2 separate regions of the Homo sapiens genome follow, and region 2 is linked to region 1. The links come from fine-mapping of genetic effects on gene expression. Tissue or cell type: whole blood. Region 1 holds a variant in brackets; the other region holds the start of a gene. All regions are shown on one strand. Distances are from middle to middle.

Evidence for each region. PIP is the estimated chance that this variant, and not a neighbour inherited with it, causes the effect.
Region 2: ANGEL1 starts here. The variant in region 1 is fine-mapped to the expression of ANGEL1 in whole blood (TOPMed, PIP 0.90).

What each region holds. Positions count from the first base shown.
Region 1 is chr14:76,724,254-76,732,358 of GRCh38, forward strand. It overlaps LOC105370577 (a long non-coding RNA gene), which reads right to left and starts at 2,458. Exons shown (of 2, transcript XR_007064273.1): 1 at 2,266-2,458. The variant T/C (reference allele first, on the strand shown) is at 3,374.
Region 2 is chr14:76,809,711-76,817,815 of GRCh38, forward strand. ANGEL1 (angel homolog 1) reads right to left here and starts at 3,172. Exons shown (of 10, transcript NM_015305.4): 1 at 3,054-3,172. The coding sequence starts at 3,117. RefSeq lists enhancers at 2,213-2,787, 2,788-3,361 and a silencer at 2,810-3,239.

The DNA.
Region 1 (8,105 bases):
AAGTATTTGGCTTTTATGAAAAAAAATTGGAACAACAGTTTTACATTATAATTTTATATACAGAGTATTTAAGTCAGGCATTGTGAATAGCTTCTGGGAAATGCTTTCAGACCTTGTAAGTTTTGCCTAGGATTGTTTGCAAAGTCTGATTTAACACCCTGTATATAATAGAGAAACCTAATTCACACCCAAACCTTTTGTATTTCTTAGAGTTACAAATGCAGCAAAGCATCTCTTAATTTCTAGAACCTTTCCAAATCATAAATGGTAGTATCAGTTTAAACCCTGTGATGTTCTGATAGGCTTATCACATATGTGGTGTGACCCTGATATTACCAGCAGCATAGCTTAATTCTTGAATTTGACCCTGTGTTAGTCCGTTCTCTCGCTACTAATAAAGACATACCCCAGACTGGGTAATTTATATAGGAAAGAGGTTTAATTGACTCACAGTTCAGATGGCTGGGGAGTCCTCAGGAAACTTACAATGACAATGGAAGGGGAAGCAAACACATCTTTCTTCAAATGGTGGCAGGAAGAAGTGCCAAGCAAAAAGGGGGAAAGCCCCTTATAAATCAGCTCTTGTAAGAACTCACTATCACGAGAACAGCATGAGGATAAGTTCCCCCATGATTCAATTATCTCCCACCAAGTCCCTCTCATGACACGTGGGGATTATGGGAACTACAATTTAAGATGAGATTTGGCGGGGGACACAGCCAAACCATATCAACCCTCTTCCCCTGTTTCTGGGTATATTCTAGCAAACTAGGTAGCATTCTAGCTTTCCTTAGACTAGAACGATGTTTAAACAATTGTCCTTACATTTAACATTTGAGTACAGAAAAAGATCGTCTAGGTTTATTTACTAAAACTGTCAGCTGGGTTCACCAAGCCACCCAAAATCCAGATAACATGGATTCATCCCAAATTCTTGTGCTCACCACTGGCTCTGAGCTGCATCTGCAGAATCACATCACTTTAGGAATCACCTTGCCATCCTGCTGTTGTTGCTGTTGGCACACATACCATTGACCCATCCGTGGCACTCAAACCACTCCCTAATTTGCACAGGGGCAGGTGCATGTTGTGTGTGTACATGTGTTTGCGGGCATGCATGTGTGTGTGCATGTGTTTTGAAGGTCTTACCAAATATTGGTGCATGGCCCTCTCACCTCTTTCCTCCCACCTTAATGCAGGAACTGGTTTGTCTCTCTTTTGTTGCTTAAAGTTCTGCTGGCCGGTACCCTTAGTATCTTCTTTATTCATTTTCAGTCAGCAAATAGTTATTGAAGACCAACTATGTGCCATGCACTGTACTAGGTGCTGGGGAAAACAGTAATAGTCCTTAACTTCAGAGAGTTTACAGTCCACAGTCTCCTGTCAAAGACAAACCTTACTCAAAGAATCATACTACCAAATATAGTTTCCCTAAGTACTTTTTAACTTTGTATTTTTAAAATAATTTTAGACTCATGTAGAAGTGCACATAGATATACTATATAGTTCCCGTGTACCCTTAATCCAGCTTCCTCCAATGGTAACATCCTGCATATTCATAGTACAATCATCACAACTGAAATGGGAAAAGTTCCCTTGTCCCCCTTGCAGGGCGTGCGATGGGGATGTGGCTTGCTTTTTCAGTGCCCTGCTGCTCAAACCTGTAGGGGAGCATACAGACAGGCACGCTATGGGCCTCCGACCCCATGGCAGTGTCTAGGGGTGAATGTTTACAGCTGAAGCCCTAGTGGGCGTGTTACTGTGTGTGTGTGTGTGTGTGTGTGTGTGTGTATGTGTGTGTTTTGAGACCGAGTCTCGCTTTGTTGCCCAGGCTGGAGTGCAGCGGTGTGATCTTGGCTCACTGCAACCTCCGCCTCCCGGGTTTAAGCAATTTTCTGCCTCAGCCTCCCGAGTAGCTGGGATTACAGGCGCCCGCCACCGCGCCCGGCTAATTTTTGTATTTTTAGTAGAGACGGGGTTTCACCATCTTGGCCAGGCTGGTCTGAAACTCCTGACCTCATGAGGCCTCCCAAAGTGCTGGGATTACAGGCGTGAGCCACCGCACCTAGCCCAGTGTGCTCTTTTAGTTTTGCTTTTAGTTTGGCCGGCTATAGGTGGCTTGTTTTAGTCAGCTCAATTAGACCCCTGCCTTATTGCAAGGACAGAGGGCTTTCTATATCCCCAGGTTCTTGCCTTGGTGCACCAAAGAATCGGATCATATGTGGGCTTGGAGAATGAGCGGAAGGTTTTACTGAGTGGAAGTACCTCTTAGCAGATGGGGGAGCCAGAAGGGAGATGGTTTTCCCTGGAGTCGGTCTGCTTGGCGGCCCGAGCGCTCCTCCGACTGCCCCAGCCAAACACCGCGTTGTTTTGCCAGTCAGTGGCCTGCCGGCATGCTGGTGCCTGTGGGTGTGTTCCTCCACAGAGCACTCCTCTTGACTTCCAGCTGCTGCTGTTTCTGCCTTGCTAGGGTCTCGGGTTTTTATAGGCACAGGATGGGGGCATGGCAGGCCAGGGTGGTCTTGGAAAATGCAACATTTGGGCAGTAAATTCCTGTCCTCACCTAGGTCGGTGGGGGTGGAGCCCTAGCCAGAGACCACGCCCTCCTCTACCCAGCACTTCCCTTCTCCCTTCCCTATCATTTAAAAGAACTACACCCTTCCCTTCCCAGCACTCCTGTATCTAACCAGGAAATGTACATGAATGCAATACTATTAACTAAACTACAGCCCTTATTGGATTAGCATTTAGCCATCTCTAAGTGCTTTTTTTTGTTTTTTTGTTGTTTTGTTGTTGTTGTTGTTTTGTTTTGAGACACGGTCTTACTCTGTTATCCAGGCTGGCGTGCAGCGGCACAATTACGACTCACTGCAGCCTTATCCTCCCGGGTTCAAACGATCCTCCCACCTTAGCCTCCTGAGTAGCTGGGATTACAGGTGTGCAGCACCATATCTGGCTAAGTTTTGTATTTTTTGTAGAGACTTAGTCTCACCATGTTGCCCAGGCTGGTCTCAAATTCCTGACCTCAAGCAATTCTCCTGCCTTCACCTCCCAAAGTTTTGGGATTACAGGCATGAGCCACCATGCCTAGCCTCTGTGCTAGCCTCTAAGTGCTTTTTAATACACTAATTAATAATTATAACGCCTAGCCTCTGTGCTAGCCTCTAAGTGCTTTTTAATACACTAATTAATAATTATAACAATCATAGGCAGTAAATACTACCATCACCCCTATTTTATAGATGCAGGAACTGAGACCAGAACAGTTACATAACTTGCCGAAGAGTCAGCTTGCAGTGGCATGACGAGGATTGCAAATCCAGGCAGCCCGGCTGTAAGGGATTTGCTCCCCACCACTATACTGTCCCTCCTC[T/C]TAACACTGCCCAACCTAGCCAGAACATGTTTTCTTGTTCAAACCCAAACAACCTATCATAGCTCTACAATACATGGCCAGGGAGCTATTAGAAAAAGTTGTAACACTTGGATGACATCTTTAAAGCCAAAATTTTGCTTCCAAAATCAAAGTTTGTTTCAATGGCAGAGGCTTCCCAAAGGAAATGACTATTTCGATCACTGTTCATGAAACAATATTCTTTGGGCTAACAAAGGCTGACATTTCAAACATTTCCCTGTGGTTGAAAATAACTTCAGCTGAAATATTTTGATTCTCAAAAGGAAGTTTCTTTGTAAGAAACGGCAAGAAATGCAGGTGCAGTTAAGGCACACCCAAAACAAAGGCCTCTGAAAATGCAGGGCTTCCTCTCCAAATCATACAATGTTTCCAACTGTCTCATTCCCACTGAAGGAGATAAGAACATGCCTTCCCCAAAATATGCTGCCCTGGCATATTGACTATTTTGAGTTAAAGGCATTTGAAAAACAGCAGGTGCAAGAAGATCATTCTGACATTCCTTCTGTTTCTTAAAAGCAGGAGATGAAACTGCCATGTGAAAGATGCTTTCTTTCCCACAGTATAGGGAAAGTATACTTTCCCTATACTACAAGGAAAGTAACAGTCTTATTATCAAGAATGGAAGCTTTAGTGGAGAGAATTCTGTACAGACCTTGTTAAAATAACTTACCTTTTTTAGCCTCCCCACTGAATTTAGTTACTTTTTCACAATTCTACTATTCTGTCTAATTCAGTATGTAAGTGTTCGACTCTAGCTGTGTCTTTGGGTCTTCAATTCTTTATGAAGGCCCCCATGCCATGGAAAACTTGTACTAAATATACTAGTATTCTTTTATCCTGTGGATCTGTCTTATGTCACTTTAATTCTCAGGCCCAGCTGAAAAACCTTAAAAAGGTAGGGGTAAAATTCTGCCTCCCCTATACCACACAACTCTAAGCCACATGAAATCTGCAACACATGCACATTAATCTGCTTAATGTTGGAAAATACCAATCCCAGAGGAGAGAGAAATAGAAAAGAAAAATTAAACAAGAAAAAACACCTTTTTGCCTAACCATGCATTTGTGGCATGTAAACGTGTTACCACAGTGCAGAAGTGACCTAAATGACCAAAGAGCCCCACCTCTCCCTTCTCCACGGTGAGATGTATCACTACCGTGGGCATCCTAAAGCCAGCTCAATCACCACAATGAGGATTCTCTTTTCTGAGGCATTACCGCCCTCTTTAACATTTTATGAATCCATTTGCAGCACAATCATTTGAGATTATAGTTTGGTCTTGCTCTCCCATAGATTCGTCCCTGCTCTGATTTTAAGTGGGTAGCCAGACCCTTTAGAATTGCTTGCCTTTGAGATTTCGCAGCACAGAAAGCTAAAGAGCTTCAAGTCCATGTCTCCTTCGTTGCTGGTGGCAGTAGGGTAAGGGGAAATGGGATAAATGTAATAAAGAGATGTGTTCTACATGAAGAGGGGAACAAGAGTAGCAAGGGGTGTTGCTGAACCAAACTGAGTCTGTTTGCTCATGCACAATGGAAAGCCACACCCTGGAGCATTTTTGCAGATATTTCTGTAGAGAAAGGTACATTGCAAGACCAGCCTTGAAGCAGTATATTTAAGGGAGAGATTCTGAGGAGGAGCTTTGGGGTGGTTAGTGATTGGCAGCAAAGGAGAGGAATTTTGGAAAGGCCCTTGAACGTGTATAGTTGTGTCTTCAAGCTTCTTCATGAGTCACACACGCAAATTCAGGGTGAGTTGGTATGAAATATGCAGTGGAAATTTTGGCTGTGATGTCAAAAGTCACCCACTGGGCAAGTAAGTCTATTCTGGGAAGACTCTAGTCAGCCATATTGGTTCCAGTTTCAGCCAGTGAGCCAGTTATTGTTGCAACTGGAGGGGATTGTATCAAGCTGTTTCCTTATCTACCATCCTGTAAGTCAAGCTCAAGGTTTCTGGTCAGTGACCAATTTCTTTTCTTTTCTTTTCTTTTCTTTTCTTTTCTTTTTTTTGAGATGGAGTCTTGCTCTGTCACCCAGACTGGAGAGCAGTGGCACGATCTTGGCTCACTGCAACCTCCGCCTCCTGGGTTCTAGCAATTCTCCTGCCTCAGCCTCCCGAGTAGCTGGGATTACAGGATGCACCACCACACCCGGCTAATTTTTGTATTTTTAGTAGAGATGGGGTTTCACCACATTGGCCAGGCTGGTCTCGAACTCCTGACCTCAAGTGATCCATCCGCCTTGGCCTCCCAAAGTGTTGGGATTACCACCATGCTCAGCCCGTGACCAATTTCCTTAAGCCTGTGGGGTACAGCTCCAGGGGCAGAAGATGTTACTGAAATGCCAGGCATCCCATTGCTTGCTGCACAGAATGCCAGGTGTCCCATTCCTTGCTGCACAGAAAGCCAATCACTGAGACTACAAGTATTACCAGAGCAGAATGCTTGATTTGGGTGCTGTGGCCAAGGAGAATGGGAGGTCAGTCTCAAATCTGTCTCTTCAATCAACTAAAATTAGGAGTTTATATAGCAAGGAAGGAATGTAACTATGTGTGGGAAAACAGGAATTAGGGAGAGTAAAAAAGAGTTGGTCAACAGACAGCAGGTGGTCTGTGAGGCAATCATGACTGGTGAGAGATCTCACTGTCCAGACGTGGTGATCTGGTAAGTTTCAGTTCTTTGATACTGTCTGGGAGGCTTGATGGTTGGTTTCCTGAGAAAGGAACTTGAATAAGACAAATGTAAATTCCTCATGTTTTAAGACTGGGAGGGTCCATTCCTATGTTTATTCCAAAGAAACCATAAACATCAGTTCCATGGAACAATTGGTCTGGTTTCAAAGAGAGAATCCCCTAGCCTGCAATGGGGAGCCATGCATCTCTTTCTGGAAAGATCTAAAGAGACAGATGGCTATTGGTACACCTAAGGGTGCTGAACTCCAGGCACTAAGGGCCTCAAGTTTTCCCAAGAGTCCCTTGCCCCAAGTGTGGCATGGATGCAGCAGGAGCAGGAGCCGAAAGGGACTGTTCAAGCTGAGACACAGAGGTCGCAGAGTGACCAGTGGGGCAGGGGACTGGCAGCAAATCCCAGATGAGTCTTTAGTGCTTAAGGCTTTAAGAACATTGAATGACCTGGGGCAGGTGGAACACTGTCAGAGAGACTCAGTAATTACTGAAATTTAACTTCCCACCACTTTCACAGGTGGGATTAATCCACGTTGACTTGAGGAGTACACAGAAATGTTGTATTCTTGAATATCTGCATTTGTGGACCAGTAGTCATACTGAGTCTATATTCATTTATTTGTTCATTTGGCAAATAATGACTGAGCTTATACTATGTGTTGTACACAGTGGTCCCCCAAGCTTCCAGTGATCACACTGGAAGGTGTCCTTCCTAAACCAAGGAGAGGCCACTGCAGTACTGCTGATATAGGAGAAGGCCCCAGGACATCTTATGGGTAGCATCACAAATGACCCACGTTGCACTGATGCTCTTACACTGTTAAATTAAGTGCAGCATAATGTGATGTAGAGGAGTAAAATTTTACCTCTACCTTCCTTAGGGCTTATCAACTGAGCTTGCAAATTAAATGACATAATAAGAGAAAATCAAGAGGAGCAAAGCATACAACTTCATTCAATACAAGTTTACATGACCCAGGGGCACTCATAAGGAAATGAAGACTCAAAGACACATAGTTGAACATTTATATACTAAATTGGGCAAACAGTAGTAAAATGTAACAAGACAAAGGGGCTTGGGCTAGGGTAGTTACTTGGGTAGAGGAGTGACTAGGAAGATAAGAATTAGTCTACCAAGTACAGATTTCCCCTGCCTCGACTTCCTATTCTTGATGACAAGAATGATTCTTTTTTTCTGGTATAAGGAAGATATCTTTCACATGACAATTTCATCTCCTGCTTTTAAGAAACAAAAGGAAGGTCAGAGGGATCTTCTAAGAGTACCCCCTGTTTTTTAAGTGCCTTTAACTCAAAACAGTCAATATGCCAGGACAGTATATTTGGGGGTTGGCATGTTTGTACTCCTTTAGTGTCAAATTTCAAAACTGTACATCTAGAAATTTATTCCAAGGAAATAATCATGGATGCAATGATTTTGCTGGAAGAATGTTCATCTTGGTCTCATTCATCTTAGCAAAATCCTGGAAACACCCAAAATAGGTTAAATATCTTACAATACATCTATTCACTAGAGCACTATGCAGCCATCAAGAATGATGTTGTACAGCTGGGCACAGTGGCTTATGCCTGTAATCCCAGCACAAGGCAGGAGGATCACTTGAGGCCAGGAGTTCAAGACCAGCCTGGGCAATACAGATAGATCCTATCTCTACAAAAACTAAAATAAAATAAATTACCCAGGCGTGGTGGTGCATCCCTGTAGTCCCAGCTACTTGAGAGGCTGAGGCAAGAGGATCACTTGAGACCAGGAGTTAGAGGTTACAGTGAGCTATGATCATATCACTGCACTCCAGCCAGGGTGACAAAGCAAGATTCTATCTCTTTTAAAAAAAAAAAAGTAAGTATGTCTGGGTGTGGTGGCTCACGCCTGTAATCCCAGCACTTTGGGAAGCCGAGGTGGGTGGATCATTTGAGGTCAGGAGTTCTAGACCAGCCTGGCCAACATGGTGAAATCCTACCTCTAATAAACACACACACACACACACACACACA
Region 2 (8,105 bases), 85 kb after region 1:
ACATAAGCCCAATAAAAGCAAGACCCATATCCACCTTGCTCATCATTGTACCATCACTGAGCCTGCCTACCTTAATGCCTGAACATCATCATCATCATCAGGGCAAAGTATTCACTATGTGCCAGGCACTGTTCTTTACAAGTGTTGACTAATTTATATGGCAGGGATCTGATAAATATTCAGTGCATGAAAGAACAGCTGTCTCACATAATCTAGAACACAGATGGGCACATATACCCACACTCCTTTTACATGACTTAGTTAAGACTACTATTAACAAACTCTTTGGTTCTAAGAATCACATTACATTGCAACCAGCAACTGACTGTTAATCAGAACTGTGGGTTATGATCTAGCACCAAAATTAATAAAACTGACCTTGAACAATGCCCCTAGTCAGATGAAGTTACTCTTGACTGTAAAATGGGGACAAGAGGCCAGGCGTGGTGGCTCCCAGCACTTTGGGAGGCAGAGACAGAGGCAGCAGGATCACTTGAGGCCAGGAGTTAGAGACCAGCCTGGGCAACATAACGAAACTTCATCTCTACAAAAAATTAAAAATTAGCCAAGTACGGTGGCACATGCCCATGGTCCTAGCTACTTGGGAGGCTGAAATGAGAGGATTGCTTGAGCCCAGGTTGACGCTGCAGTGAGCTATGACTGCCCTTCTGCACTCCCGCCTGGGAGACAAAGTGAGACCTCATCTCAAAAAAAAAAAGAAAAGAAAAGAAAAAAATAAATTTTAAATTTAAAAAAATAGAGACAAGTTTGAACTAGATAATCTCTGAGCTTTTCTAGCTGTATAAATTCCCTAATCTATTAATGTATTCCAAAAGAAAAAGTCCTAAAGTAGACAGTCTCAAAAATCTATACAATTTACATCTTAGCAAGGGCCCTTAAGCCTTTTCTCAAAGCTACTTATTGTAATAAAATCTTCACAAACTTCATTATCTGCTTTCCCATTCCACAACACATCAGAGGCTATAAATTACAAGGTGCCAACAATCGACAGTAAGAGACAGCTGACATCTCTCTGATACTGCAGCCACCAATGACAGCCAACAGGCAAGAAAGAAAGTGGGAAAAACTCTAAAATTAGAGCCCCCAAACTCTGAGCACAGTATTTTGGTGAGAGCAAACAACTCCTACACTCACACACTCAACCATTTATTTACAGCACAGGACGAGTAACATGCACGATGCTGGCCCTCAATCACTAGACTCATTTTATTGGCAATTTTTTTTTAAAGGGAAGAAACCTTAAAAGTGGCTCAAATATTGAAAGACGGTTCAAATATCTTGTTTGGGGTCTATGTATATTTATGTCCTTCTAAACAATGGTTTTAACCACGGTGATTTTGCCCTCGGAAGACATTTAGCAACGTTCAGAGACACTGTTGTTGTCACAACTGCAGCATTGCTACTGGCATCTAGTGGTTAGAGGACAGAGACGCTGCTGAACTTCCAACAATTCACAGGACAGACCCACACCAAATGATCCGGTCCAAAACGTCAACAGTGCTGAGATTGAGAAACCCTGCTCTAAACCTATGTATGGGCTGGGTCGTTGAGCTTTAGCCTCAAGGACTTCCTGATTATCTGCCCCTTGAAATATCCTCTGTGTATACCAGATGGCAGAGGTTCTTTGGTTCATATGCACGAAGTTACTAGCTTTCAATTTTGGTAGATGTCTTTTGGTGGTGGTGGTGGTGGATTTTCAGCAGCAGAATGCTTTTGTTTTTTAAAAATCTTATCTGGAAACCAAATATGCCAAGTAAATATAAGTGGGACTACTGTAATGTGTAGGTGGGGGGGCGGGGGGGGCCCTCCTCTGAGATCCCTAGAACTCTACTGGTCTGGAAACCTCTGGACTAGTATACTGTATCACTAAGGCATTAGAAGAGCTCCAGGAAAAACAGCAACATAGTTAAAAGAATATGTTTAGTTCTCTGGAAACAATTACTTCTGTGGAGTTTCCCACATTCCTCAGAAGTATGGACACACAAGACATTCCTGAATTCACTGAGTGCCTACTGTATACCAAGCAATGTGTTAACACCAGAGATACAGCGAACAAAATGGACGTGGCCCTGCGCTCCTGAAGTTTGCATTCTAATGGCAGATACACAGTAAAATTTAAAATATTTCTATATGAAATATATATTATCAATGACACACACATTGCGTACCAATTGTGTAAAGTTCCACAAAGGAAAACCACAGAATATACAATTGGAGCCCTCATTCCTAAGTACTTCTTGGTCCTGTCCCATAAATTAAAGGCAAAAAGTCTGCGAGTTCCATGGGATCTCAGAAACTGATGGTCGCATAAAACCCTCCGTAATTTCAAAGCCCAGAAATAGAGAATGCAGACAAATTATGAAACAATAACGAAATAAACACCCCCTCTTTGAGGTATCGACTGGGCATTGCCCCCACCCCAGCACATCTCCCTCTAAACCGCCGGGAGTGGGGGCAGGAATGCTCCAAAGCTGAGATCTAAATGTGTCTCTGATTGAACGTCCGTTTTTCAACCAAAGACACCGGTGAGCGAGAGCTGCCAGGTGGCAGTGAAAGGCGAGTGTGAAGTTAACCTGGGGAAGATCGGTGCGTCCAGTACTTCGGCCATAAACCTCCCAGAGCCGACCCGCCTCGCCCGCTGAGAATTTGGGCACTCGCCTAGGTCCGAGCTACTACCCCTTCCCGACCCGCCGGGGTGCTGACTTGGCCGACCCCACAATTTCTCTGCACCCCCAGGGCCAGGAAAGGGCCCTGCCCGTCCACAGCTCCTCTCCACCTTAACCGCGGCCGGACGCCATCTGACAACAGGCGGGAGGAGGGGCCGCCCACGAGGGACGTCGGCCAGGTCCAGGCCTCGTGGGGTCAGGAGGGGCCCGCGGGGCAGGGGCTCAGGACCGCCTCCCTACACCTCGGCACTGCCCGGGGCACGGTAGTCGTGAGGCCCGGCCAACCGCACGCCGCCCCAGGCCCGCGGAGCCCCGCAGAGGCGAGCCCTGGCCGGGCTCCTGTCTGTCGGTACGCCTGGCCGGTACCTGAGAGGGCGCGGAAGAGGCGCGTGGCCGGCAGCAGCAGGTAACACAAGCACGACGCGATCATGGCCGGCCGCCCGCGCCCGCCTCCGCTCCTCACTGCAGCCAGCAGGTCCTCCCTCAGCTCGGCCCCGCCCCCGGCCCGGTCCGGCCCACGTGGTGCCGCCGCCGCGCTTCAACAACAACTTTATTGGGAGCGCAGGTCTACGGGTGCGCACGCAGGAAGTGGGAGGAGCCGGTTCCCATGGCAACTAGCCACCCCTAGCACCCGGCTGCCACCCAGGCGTCCCGAATTAAAATTGAGCGCCTCACTGGAGGCCCCATAGTGTTATTCAAAGGCCACAGTTTATTCCCACTTCTGCAGCTGACTAGGTGTCCACCTTGTTACCACACTATAGCCTCTCCGCCCCTCAGTTTCCTCACCTGTAAAATGAAGAGCTGGACTTTCTCTAAGGCTCCACTGAACCTTGACTTCTAGCCCTTCTCGACCCAGAAAGGAAGCGAGTTATTCCCCCATTTCCCCCGTTTTCCTGCCTCTACTTCCCTGTCTCAGATTCTAGGTCACAAATTGAGTCCTACCTTGCTTCAGGAAGTAAGACTTTGTCTCCTTCCCTACTTTCTAAACGGGCCTTCTTTTCCCTAATCTAGAAAAACAGGGTTTCCCATTGGTAAGGAAGTCAAGAAAGAAAGGAGAGAGGACAAAGAGAGGAGAGAGAGAAGGGAGAGAGGAGAGAGACAGAAGAGAGAAACTTCCACAAGGCCAGGGACCAGTTCTGGCTGGTTGTTTGCTCACTTTGAGGTATCTCTAATACAATCCAAGCACCTATTGTAACCAAGTACCCAGCTTGGAAGTTATATTCTTGTTATATACTTCTATTTCTTTATTTTTGTTCAGTTAACCACTAGGCACCCCCCGACACCCCAGCACCCCCCATACACACTGTTAGCATATCTAATTGTATGTTCGCTTAAAAGTTCCAGAGACTAAATCTTGAAACAATATAGGCATCTGTGGAAATCTCCACCAGGAGATTGATTCAAGGCTACAGTTAATTTATAACTCAGCCCAGCCCGAGATGATGCCAGCCCATTCACCAGATGGGCAGTAACTCAAGACAAGTCATCAGAACTCGTCATGAAGACCTGCACTGCCTCACCCCTTGCATACCCTCCATGCCAAAACTTCTTAAAGCCTCGCATTTTGCTTGGAAATGTGAAGCAGCTCCATTAAAGCAAAAGCCTGGATCGTTTTTCCCCACTGCTAGCTTTGGTTTATAATAAAGTCAGTCTCCTTCTACCATACCACGACCTTGCTCGTTGGTTTTGCAAGCGGCCGAATCTGCATTCGCTAGCACTACTAGCCACCACATAAGCCTTTACTGACTGGTTGAACAAAGCATATGTCACTAAATGAAGGCCAGTTCTGCCATCACTTCTGTGCCACCTGCGACCTCTTTGAGTCTCTCTTCCCCAGTCCCCCTCCCCCAATCTTCTACCCCAAACAGGCTCTGAAGGAGGGACTGGACAATGCACCCAGTTTCAGTACCCAGTGTCTGAGTTGCACGATTTCCAGTTTGTGGCTGGAGCCTTGGTTGTTCAGGGAAGCCTTCTGGGGAGTCACCAGATCCTGGACCAGCTGGGTACATCATAACACTGAAAGGCTAATAGGAGGAAGAAGGAGAGAGTTAGTATTGTGGCCTTCCCACTACTTACCCTTAGTTCTAGAGGTGGCAATGTCTGCCTGCCTTCAGGCAACAGCACTTATCCCTTTGAGATGAAACAGAGGCCCAGCAATCTGAAGGTTGGGAAGCTGCTTAGAAATTAGTGCACAAATGGTGGATCTACCAAAGGCGCTCCCGAGGTCAGGCCCCCTCCTTTGATGTAGCTTAAGTAAAACCCTCCTTGTACCCTCCTTCCATTTTGTACCATGAGTTATCCAGAAGTCCAAGTTCCAAATCAGATCCTAATCAAGGGTAACGGTTCCCTTATCTCCACTGGGAAAATGCTTTCAAAATACAAATTTCTAGGCCCTACTCCCAGAGTTCTGATTTAGCAGCCCTGGAATGAGGCCCTTAAACACTTACTTATTCCAATGCACGGTTTGGGAACCTCTGCTAAAGGATCCAGTCTCAACTGGGCTGTTCAGTGCACAGTGTGGGCACAATGTGTCAGCCCAACTGATCTATGTTCTTTCAGAGGCTTTTTCTGCGGCCAGTTAAGTGAGGCTTCCCTCTTTTTGTTTCCTGGTCCATAATCAGCCGTGTTGGAAGGTGTAGGGTGATATAAGGATCACAAGCTTTGGAGTTAGACCAACTGAGTTGAAATCCTGGCTCTGCCACTTTTTACCTGTGGAATCTCTCAGGTTGCCTAAGCTCTTGGGGCCTCAGTTTCCTCATTGTGCCTGACCCAGTATAAACTCTCAATGTTTACTATTACATTTTTGGATTTGGGCAGAAAAGCAGCTCCAGACGTGGCTGATGTAGGATCTTCTTCCACAATTTCTGGCTAAAATAGAGCTCCTGCCCTCCAAATTGTAATGAGTATTACTAAGCAAGCCAATAACTACAGGTTCCAAGGAGACTTGGCCGAAGGAGTGGAGCCTTAGGCTTCCCCAGTCAGAGGAAAATTACAAGTGCAATCTGCACAGTCTCCAGCCTCATTGTTTCAGAAATATCCCAAGAAGAGAGACGATTCCCTCAATTCATTCCAGCTGTGCTAACAATGAAGACAAGTATGAGCACCTGCATCCATCACTACCATGGTTTCCAGGGTGCAGAACCTATGTAATGGAGCAAGTGGGAGGTTTTGCAATACTTTGAGAGACTTAAGATGCTCTCTTAAAGGGACATTTCCAGTCTATAAGAAATTTAAGCCCTTGAGGGCTAAAATTTTACTTATGACAACAAATATATGTGGAATTCCAACAGAGTGGCTGCATTTATTAACTTATTGGTTGAACATGTGCAAATATTGGGGCGGCATAGTGCTTTCTTCAGGATTACAGAGGCTACGGACCAACGCCTGGGACAGTGCTGCCCAAAAGAAATATGTTGTGAACCACATATGCAATTTAAAATTTTCTAGTAGCCTCATGTAAAAAGTAAAAATAAATCAATTGATAAAGCAAGTGAAATTAATTAATAATATTTTATTTTACCCCATAGATCCAAAAATTTTGTATTTTAACTTGTAATCAATAGTTCAAGATGAGATATTTTATGTTCTTTTTTTGTACTAAGTCTTCAAAATCCAGTGTGTATTTTACTTGGACATCACATCTGAATTTGGACTAGCCGTATTTCAGGTTCTGAATACTGCAAGGAGCTAATAGCTACCGTACTGAACATGGGCTGTTCTGGAGAGTGCAAACAGCTTCTCAGATAGGATAGGCTGAAAAGATTTGCTCATCTTCAACTCTTACGATAACCTGAGGCCTCTACACTCCTAGTAATCTGCCTTCTCTGAGCCTGGTGTTTTCTTTGGGAATCTCAAGATTTATGACTAGGCATTCCCAGAATGTGCCAGATTAGTCTGAATTAATGCATTCATTTGCTCACTTATTCACTGATTCATGCATCCATGTGTTCATTAGAGATTTATCAGGCAGTCATCAATGTTTACCCCAACCTCACCCTTGACTTTCCTTGACCTCCTGCCCACTCCTCGATTCCTTGAAACTTCAGCCCTGGACTCACAGTCTTCTTCCCTACCTCTAGTCCTCCTGTCACCAGTGTGGATGAGCCATCCTAACCCCTGGAAGCTCATTGCCATGACCTCCTTAATGACCTTCATTTCCATGTGCTTCAGACACACCCTTCCCTGGCTGCACCTTGGATATGTCATTACTGGGCACTGTTTCCCGTCTGAAATCATAAATTCACACACCCACTCTGATGGCATGGCTTTCTCATGGCTTTCTGCCTCTCCCACTTCTACTTCATCTTTTCTTTTAACTCCATCAGACCCTTGATTTCTCTAGTCTGTCCTTCTCAAGCTTTCCCTCAGTCATCATTTCTTTCCCTATCCAACATGGAATTCCCATGACCCCTCTTTTAAATCACTCTTCCCAATATCATCAACTCTCCTGCCCACTGTTCTTAGATTATATCTGCGTGGGTCAGTAAAACTATTCTTCTTGGCTCTTACATCTGGGCTGCTGAGCAACAATGAATAAAATTACCAACCCCAAAGATTGAGGCCATTAGTGTGCTAGTCTCCAACCTCTCTTCTGCTCGCAACCCTCCCCAGCAATTCTATGCTCTTTAATTAGCTTTCTCTCCCATTCTCACAATGATTATTCTTCTCAAACTTTCTGCCCTATTGCCTCCCTTCTTGCTCTTAGGAGATTATCTCCCCATCAACTTTAGAGAAAAAAATAGAGCCACCAAGTGTAAATTCTCTACTCCCTGTTGCCACAACAATGCATTGACCAGCATCTCTAACCACCTTTTCCTCTTCTCCCAACACAGCAGTTGGCACTTCCACCATGCTCCGGACCCCCTCCCCCTTCCTCTGAGATGATGTTCCTTCTACTACCCCTCTCCTTTCCTTCACTGACCCCTTGTCATCAACATTTAAGCATGCTCAAGTCACTCCTGTCAAGAAGCCCTCCTTCAGTGCCAGGTCCCCTCCAGCTAGCCCCTGCGTTCCCACCTCTCACAGCCAATCTTCTTGCAAGAGTTGTCTGCAGCTGCTGTCTACAATTCCTCACTCTTATTCATGCTCATTCCACTGAGATATAGCTTCCACCACCATTACACCACCAAAACTCCCTCCTCACTGTTCCTGATGCTTTCCTTGTTGAGGATAGTAGGGTCCTGCAGAAAGAACACGCCCTAGGCATTATTATTTCTTGAATATTCTGTAATTTTGCATAACTTCCCCCTTCTTGTAAGATTCTCTTCCCTCGGTTTCTGTGACATTCTTGTTTTCCGCTTGTCTTGGTGGATGTCCTATCCTTGTATCCTTCACTTCTGTTCCTCTCACCACCACCCTTTTCCTGATGATGTTCCTAGGATTTCTCCTTTGGCCTCTCCCCTCCTCTTACTCCACTGT